Regions from separate parts of the Homo sapiens genome. Here all the other regions are linked to region 2. Evidence: fine-mapped expression QTL. A gene starts in region 2. Each other region holds a variant in brackets. All regions are shown on one strand. Distances are between the middles of the regions.

Region 1 (2,755 bases), 760 kb before region 2:
GGCATGGTGGTGGGCACCTGTAATCCCAGCTGCTCGGGAGGCTGAGGCAGGAGAACAGCTTGAAACCGGAAGGCGGATGTTACAGTGAGCTGAGATCGCATCACTGCACTCCAGTCTGGGCAAAAGAGCAAAACTCCGATCGGTGGCTGGCAAGATGGTCAAATAGGAACAGATCTGGTCTGCAGCTCCCAGCGAGATCAACGCAGAAGGCAGATGATTTCTGCATTTCCAATTGAGGTACCCAGCTCATCTCATTGGGGCTGGTTAGACAGTGGGTATAGCCCATGGAGGGTGAGCTGAAGCAGGGTTGGGCATTGGCTCACCAGGGAAGCACAAGGAGTCAGGGAACTCCCTCCCCTAGCCAAGGAAAGCCGTGAGGGACTGTGCCATGAGGGACAGTGCACTCTGGCCCAGATACTACGCTTTCCCCACGGTCTTCGCAACTCATAGACCAGGAGATTCCCTCAGGTGCCTACGCCACCAGGGCCCTGGATTTCAAGCACAAAACTAGGCGGCCGTTTGGGCAGACACCAAGCTAGCTGCAGGAGTTTTATTTTCATACCCCAGTGGCGCCTGGAGCGCCAGTGAGGTGAGACAGAACCGTTCACTCTCCTGGAAAGGGGACTGAAGCCAGGGAGCCAAGTGGTCTAGCTCAGCAGATCCCACCCCCATGGAGCCCTGGAAGCTAAGATTCACAGACTTGAAATTCTCGCTACCAGCAGAGCACTCTGAATTCAACCTGGGATGCTGGAGCTTGGTAAGGGGAGGGCCAGCCACCATTACTGAGGCTTGAGTAGACAGTTTTCCTGTCACAATGTAAACAAAGCCACCTGGAAGTTCGAACTGGGTGGAGCCCACTGCGCTCCTCAAAGCCTCTGTAGCCAGACTGCCTCTCTAGATTCCTCCACTCTGGGAAGGGCATCTATGAAAGAAACTCAGCAACCCCAGTCAGGGCCTTACAGAACAAACTCCCATCTCCCTGGGACAGAGCACCTGGGGGAAGGGGTGGCTGTGGGCACAGCTTCAGCAGACTTAAATGCTCCTGCCTGTGAATCTGAAGACAGCAACGGATCTCCCAACACAGCGCTTGAGCTCTGCTGAGGGACAGACTGTCTCCTCAAGTGGGTCCCTGATCCCTGTGCCTCCTGACTGGGAGACACCTCCCAGCAGGGGTCGACAGACACCTCATACAGGAGAGCTCTGGCTGGCATCTGGTGGGTGCCCCTCTGGGACGAAGCTTCCAGAGGAAGGAACATTGCTGTTCTGCAGCTTCCGCTGGTGATACCCAGGCAAACAGGGTCTAGAAAGGACCTCCTGCAAACTCCAGCAGACCTGGAAA[G/A]CTAACAAACAGAAAGAAATAGCATCAACGTCAACAAAAAGGATGTCCACACAGAAACCCTATCCGGAGGTCACCAACATCAAAGATCAAAGGTAGATAAATCCACGAAGATGAGGAAAACCCAGTGCAAAAAGGCTGAAAATTCCAAAAACCGGAACGCCTCTTCTCCAAAGGATCACAACTCCTCACCAGCAAGGCAACAAAACTGGATAGAGAATGAGTTTGGTGAATTGACAGAAGTAGGCTTCAGAAGGTGGGTAATAACAAACTCCTCCAAGCTAAAGGAGCATGTTCTAACCCAATGCAAGGAAGCTAAGAACCTTGAAAAAGATTAGAGGAATTGCTAACTACAATAACCAGTTTAGAGAAGAACATAAATGACCTGATGGGGCAGAAAAACACAGCACAGCTTCACTTCGTGAAGCATACACAAGTATCAATAGCCGAATTGATCAAGTGGAAGAAAGGATATCAGAGACTGAAGATCAACTTAATGAAATAAAGTGTGAAGAAAAGATTAGAGAAAAAAAAAAGAAAAGAAAAGGAATGAACAAAAGCCTCCAAGAAATATGGGACTATGTGAAAAAACCAAACCTATGTTTGATTGGTGTACCTGAAAGTGACGGGGAGAATGGAACCAAGTTGGAAAACACTCTTCAGGATATTATGCAGGAGAACTTCCCCAACCTAGTAAGAAAGGCCAACATTCAAATTCAGGAAATATAGAGAACACCACAAAGATACTCCTTGAGAAGAGCAACCCCAAGACACAAGAGCAACCCCAAGACACATAATCGTCAGATTCACCAAGGTTGAGATGAAGAAAAAAATGTTAAAGGCAACCAGAGGAAAAGGTCGGGTTACCCACAAAGGGAAGCCCATCAGACTAACAGTGGATCTCTCTGCAGAAGCTTTACAAGCCAGAGAGCGTGGGGGCCAATAGTCAACATTCTTTTTTTTTTTTTTTTGCCAGAGAGCATGGGGGCCAATAGTCAACATTCTTTTTTTTTTTTTTTTTTTTTTTTTGCTAACCTTATTTATGTCACTTAAGGATTGACATTTGAAAAGAATGAGAGAATGAAGGGTGTTAGTTTAATGAGCATGAAATGTTTTATATGCTGTTATAAGAATTGAGAGAGCTTTTGAGTATTACCTTTCTCCACTAAAAGTTGGGTAAGATGGGGTGAAAAGCTTTAAAACAAATAACAGGTAAAATTAGATAAAGTAATCTGTATAACCAGAAGATAAAGATCAAATGTAAATGTTAAAAGGGCTGCATTTTGCACTAGACAATGCAAATTCCACCATCAAGTTGGTATTAAGAAACTGGGAGATTCTGGATTCTGGTGTTGTCAGTTCCAGGCTTTTTTAATACCCCAAGGAGGGCTGTGGTTGAAGCTCTAGTCAACATTCTTA
Region 2 (2,736 bases):
GGCCCCCTGGCCAGCACCTGCATCACACTGGCCTCCACTGGACACCCTTGCAGCTTCGGGCCTTCCTCACAGACACACTGCTGGACCAGCTGCCCAACCTGGCCCACTTGCAGAGTTTCCTGGCCCATCTGACCCTAACTGAAACCCAGCCTCCTAAGAAGGACCTGGTGTTGGAACAGGTAGGCACTGGAAAGTTAGCTGCTCAGGACCACTGTCCCACTTTACCAGCACCTTCCTGCCACTCTCCACTTCTCTCTCCTAGATCCCAGAAATCTGGGAGCGGCTGGAGCGAGAAAACAGAGGCAAGTGGCAGGCAATTGCCAAGCACCAGCTCCAGCATGTGTTCAGCCCCTCAGAGCAGGACCTGCGGCTGCAGGCGCGAAGGTAAGGCCTGTGGAAATGGCAGGGAGGGTGGAGGGGATGCAGGAGGCATGGATGTGGGTGGGGTGCCCCCACCTTCCAGGGCCAGTCAGACCTTCCTGACTTTCCCCCAGGTGGGCTGAGACCTACAGGCTGGATGTGCTAGAGGCAGTGGCTCCAGAGCGGCCCCGCTGTGCTTACTGCAGTGCAGAGGCTTCTAAGCGCTGCTCACGATGCCAGAATGAGTGGTATTGCTGCAGGTGAGGGTATCCTAGAACCTTGGACCTCTAAGCCCTACTCCCACATCCCCCACATGCATTGCCATCCTCAATACCCACCTGCCTGCAGGGAGTGCCAAGTCAAGCACTGGGAAAAGCATGGAAAGACTTGTGTCCTGGCAGCCCAGGGTGACAGAGCCAAATGAGGGCTGCAGTTGCTGAGGGCCGACCACCCATGCCAAGGGAATCCACCCAGAATGCACCCCTGAACCTCAAGATCACGGTCCAGCCTCTGCCGGAGCCCCAGTCTCCGCAGTGGAGAGCAGAGCGGGCGGTAAAGCTGCTGACCGATCTCCCTCCTCCTCACCCCAAGTGAAGGCTCGAGACTTCCTGCCCCACCCAGTGGGTAGGCCAAGTGTGTTGCTTCAGCAAACCGGACCAGGAGGGCCAGGGCCGGATGTGGGGACCCTCTTCCTCTAGCACAGTAAAGCTGGCCTCCAGAAACACGGGTATCTCCGCGTGGTGCTTTGCGGTCGCCGTCGTTGTGGCCGTCCGGGGTGGGGTGTGAGGAGGGGACGAAGGAGGGAAGGAAGGGCAAGGCGGGGGGGGCTCTGCGAGAGCGCGCCCAGCCCCGCCTTCGGGCCCCACAGTCCCTGCACCCAGGTTTCCATTGCGCGGCTCTCCTCAGCTCCTTCCCGCCGCCCAGTCTGGATCCTGGGGGAGGCGCTGAAGTCGGGGCCCGCCCTGTGGCCCCGCCCGGCCCGCGCTTGCTAGCGCCCAAAGCCAGCGAAGCACGGGCCCAACCGGGCCATGTCGGGGGAGCCTGAGCTCATTGAGCTGCGGGAGCTGGCACCCGCTGGGCGCGCTGGGAAGGGCCGCACCCGGCTGGAGCGTGCCAACGCGCTGCGCATCGCGCGGGGCACCGCGTGCAACCCCACACGGCAGCTGGTCCCTGGCCGTGGCCACCGCTTCCAGCCCGCGGGGCCCGCCACGCACACGTGGTGCGACCTCTGTGGCGACTTCATCTGGGGCGTCGTGCGCAAAGGCCTGCAGTGCGCGCGTGAGTAGTGGCCCCGCGCGCCTACGAGAGCGGAAGGGGCAGCCAAGGGGCAGCGCAGTCGCCGCGGGTCAAGTCGCGGCAGAGGGGGTCGGCGGGGACAGCTCCCGAGGACTAGGTCCGTTACTTTCGCCCCATCGCTGAAGAGTGCGCGAAAATGGTTTATCCCTTGTCGCACTCCACTCGTATCTGGGCCACAGATGAGCAGAGGTGGCTGCTTATATGTAAAAATACGCTGATTTTAAGTTTCTTATCTTTAAAATGCCTTGGCCCTTCTTGAGAAAGGGTTTGTGCCTACTGTCCTCGGAGTCCATCTTCCCAGGCTTGCCTCTTCTCAAACACTCATGACCCCCTCCAGAACCTTTAGGGTGAAGGGAAATTACCACCTATGGGAGGGAGCCTGGAAAAATTTAGAACCTTTGGTGGGCCCCCTGCAAGCAGGAGTTTTGTTGAGTCTTTATTTAGCAAACACCCTTTTCTGACCCAGTGAATCAGATGCTAAAATATGCACGCAGCCACACACCCAGCAGTCCTTCTGCACCCCTGGGAATCGCCAGCAAGCAAAGGTTGCTCTCCCCTGGGTAGACACCAGCTGGAATCACCAGGGGTGCTTTTACAGTCCTCCCCGCTAGCCTGGATCCCACCGCAGACCTGTTGAATCAACTGCTGGGAGTGGACCCTAGGCATCAGTAAATTTTAAAAACTCCCCAAATTATTGTAACATGGAGTCTGGGTTGAGCATCACTGCTCTGGCCTATTTAGGAACTTGTGGATGGATAGTGTCCCAGGTCTGTGTGTGCATGGAGACCCTCTCATCCGGTACAAGAGGACATCACAAATTCAGCTGGGGGGAGCACAAAGTTGTGACAGAATGCAAAGAATGAACAAGGGGCCGAGCGCGGTGGCTCATGCCTGTAATCCCAGCACTTCGGAAGGCGGAGGCGGGTGGATCACCTGAGGTCAGGAGTTCAAGACCAGCCTGGCCAACATGGTGAAACCTCATGTCTACTAAAAAATAAAAAAAAATGAGCCAGGCGTAGTGGCGGGTGCCTGTAATCCCAGCTACTCGGGAGGCTGAGGTGGGAGAATTGCTTGAACACA
Region 3 (2,755 bases), 30 kb after region 2:
GGAAGTGAGGAGCCCCTCTGCCCAGCCAGCCGCCCCGTCCGTGAGGGAGGTGGGGGGATCAGCCCCACGCCCGGCCTGCCGCCCCGTCCGGGAGGGAGGTTGGGGGGTCAGCCCCCCGCCCGGCCAGCCGCCCCATCCGGGAGGGAGGTGGGGGGGTCAGCCCCCCGCCCGGCCAGCCGCCCCGTCCGGGAGGGAGGTGGGGGGGTCAGCCCCCCGCCTGGCTAGCCGCCCCATCCCGGAGGTGAGGGGCGCCTCTGCCCGGCCGCCCCTACTGGGAAGTGAGGAGCCCCTCTGCCCGGCCAGCCGCCCCGTCCGGGAGGGAGGTGGGGGGGGGTCAGCCCCCCGCCTGGCCAGCCGCCCCATCCGGGAGGTGAGGGGCGCCTCTGCCCGGCCGCCCCTACTGGGAAGTGAGGAGCCCCTCTGCCCGGCCAGCCGCCCCGTCCGGGAGGGAGGTGGGGGGGTCAGCCCCCCGCCCGGCCAGCCGCCCCGTCCGGGAAGGAGGTTGGGGGGTCAGCCCCCCGCCCCGGCCGGGAGGGAGTTGGGGGGGTCAGCCCCCCGCCCGGCCAGCCACCCCGTCCGGGAGGTGAGGGGCGCCTCTGCCCGGCTGCCCCTACTGGGAAGTGAGGAGCCCCTCTGCCCGGCCACCACCCCGTCTGGGAGGTGTACCCAACAGCTCATTGAGAACGGGCCATGATGACAATGGCGGTTTTGTGGACTAGAAAGGTGGGAAAGGTGGGGAAAAGATTGAGAAATCGGATGGTTGCCATGTCTGTGTAGAAAGATGTAGACGTGGGAGACTTTTCATTTTGTTCTATACTAAGAAAAATTCTTCTGCCTTGGGATCCTGTTGATCTGTGACCTTACCCCCAACCCTGTGCTCTCTGAAACATGTGCTGTGTCCACTCAGGGTTAAATGGATTAAGGGCGGTGCAAGATGTGCTTTGTTAAACAGACGCTTGAAGGCAGCATGCTCGTTAAGAGTCATCACCACTCCCTAATCTCAAGTACCCAGGGACACAAACACTGCGGAAGGCCGTGGGGTCCTCTGCCTAGGAAAACCAGAGACCTTTGTTCACTTGTTTATCTGCTGACCTTCCCTCCACTATTGTCCTGTGACCCTGCCAAATCCCCCTCTGCGAGAAACACCCAAGAATGATCAATAAAAAAATAATAATTAAAAAAAAAAAAGAAAAAAAAAAGAAAAGAAACCACAGTGGCCGATTGCAGTGGCTCACTCCTGTAATCCCAGCACTTTGGGAGGCCGAGGCGGGCAGATCACGAGGTCAGGAGATCGAGACCATTCTGGCTAACACGGTGAAACCCCATCTCTATTAAAAATACAAAAAAAAAATAGCCGGGCGTGGTGGTGGTTGCCTGTAGTCCCAGCTACTCAGGAGGCTGAGGCAGGAGAATGGCGTGAACCTGAGAGGCGGAGGTTCAGTGAGCTGAGACCCTGCCACTGCACTCCAGCCTGAGTGACAGAGCGGGACTCTGTCTCAAAAAAAAAAAAAAAAACACACAGCTTAGTTTTCAGTGACTCCAAATTAGGAAAATGAAAAAAAAGAAGGAAAAAAATTGAAAACTTAATTTGAAGACTTGTAGCCAAGAAAAATTCA[T/G]TCCAAACTGTAGAAAATCATAAAAATTGGAAGCAAACAAACAAAAAAACAGTTAAGACTAGAATCTAACAACAGGTGAACATTCGTTTTGAAACATGATTTTATTCTCTCTCCAATTTCCCATTTTACTAAAGACAAATCATGGTATGACTTGTTTGCTTATTATACTTGGCCTAAATATTTGTATACAGTGCAGCAAGAATAATTTATTTTGTCCCATAAGAGGAATCTCAGGTAAGACTTTTTAAAGCCCTGCCCAGCCATGGATTTGTGCCATCAAATACCCATGAGTTGGATGGAATTTCCTCTCCTTTCAAGTTCCAAGATAAACATAAACCTGGGGCCTCTGTGCCTGTCAGAAAGTGACATCCTTTTTTTTTTGATCAGGCTAGTCTTGAATTCCTGACCTCAGGTGATCCTCCCGCGTTGGCCTCCCAAAGTGCTGGGATTACAGGCATGAGCCACCACTCCTGGCCCCAGAAAGTGACATTCTTTACTTACCACAGGTAAGAAATCCTGTACAGGGACTGTGTACACAAAATGTGAGGCCAGTTTTCCCAAGGGCTTTATTGGCTCCATAAGTTAAGTTTGATTCCTTAAACGAAAGCACACCATTCCTGTCAAAGTCTTGGTCAAATAATCAATTCCTCCAATTGTGTCCTGTTACAAATGAAAACAGATTCTTTTTTTTTTTTTTTTTTTTGGTGGAGTCTGGCTCTGTTGCCCAGGCTGGAGTGCAATGGTGCAATCTCAGCTCACTGCCACCTCTGCTTCCCAGGTTCAAGCGATTCTACTGCCTTAGCCTCTGGAGTAGCTGGGATTACAGGCATGTGCCACCATGCCCAGCTAATTTTTGTGTTTTTAGTAGAGATGGGGTTTTGCCATGTTGGCCAGGCTGGTCTCGAACTCACAACCTCAGGTGATTTGCCCACCTTGGCCTCCCAAAGTGCTGGGATTACAGGAGTGAGCCACCATGCCAGGCAAAAACAGATTCTTATGGCACTTATGCAAATAACTGTATTGCCATAAGTTAAGAATACTCACAAATAGTTTCCAAATTCTGGAGAAATCAGGTAGAGAAACAAATATGCTCCAAATTTTGTTCATAGGACTGTACTAAATTGTTAAAAGCTGTTGGC

Evidence for each region. PIP is the estimated chance that this variant, and not a neighbour inherited with it, causes the effect.
Region 1: its variant is the best candidate, but not a certain one, in a credible set for the expression of RASSF1 in whole blood (TOPMed, PIP 0.76).
Region 3: its variant is the best candidate, but not a certain one, in a credible set for the expression of RASSF1 in spleen (GTEx, PIP 0.56).

Annotation. Positions count from the first base shown.
Region 1 is chr3:51,095,462-51,098,216 of GRCh38, reverse strand. All of the region lies in intron 9 of DOCK3 (dedicator of cytokinesis 3), which reads right to left. Among named protein-coding and RNA genes, the nearest start is that of MANF, 290 kb to the left of the region's middle. The variant G/A (reference allele first, on the strand shown) is at 1,340.
Region 2 is chr3:50,339,458-50,342,193 of GRCh38, reverse strand. It overlaps RASSF1 (Ras association domain family member 1), which reads left to right and starts at 1,358. Exons shown (of 6, transcript NM_007182.5): 1 at 1,358-1,638. The coding sequence starts at 1,389. ZMYND10 (zinc finger MYND-type containing 10) reads left to right here. Exons shown (of 12, transcript NM_015896.4): 9 at 54-179; 10 at 263-384; 11 at 495-620; 12 at 709-1,082. The coding sequence ends at 784. RefSeq lists enhancers at 607-1,429, 1,430-2,253 and a silencer at 1,099-1,618.
Region 3 is chr3:50,309,026-50,311,780 of GRCh38, reverse strand. It overlaps a transcript of HYAL1 not described here. Among named protein-coding and RNA genes, the nearest start is that of HYAL1, 6.8 kb to the right of the region's middle. The variant T/G (reference allele first, on the strand shown) is at 1,617.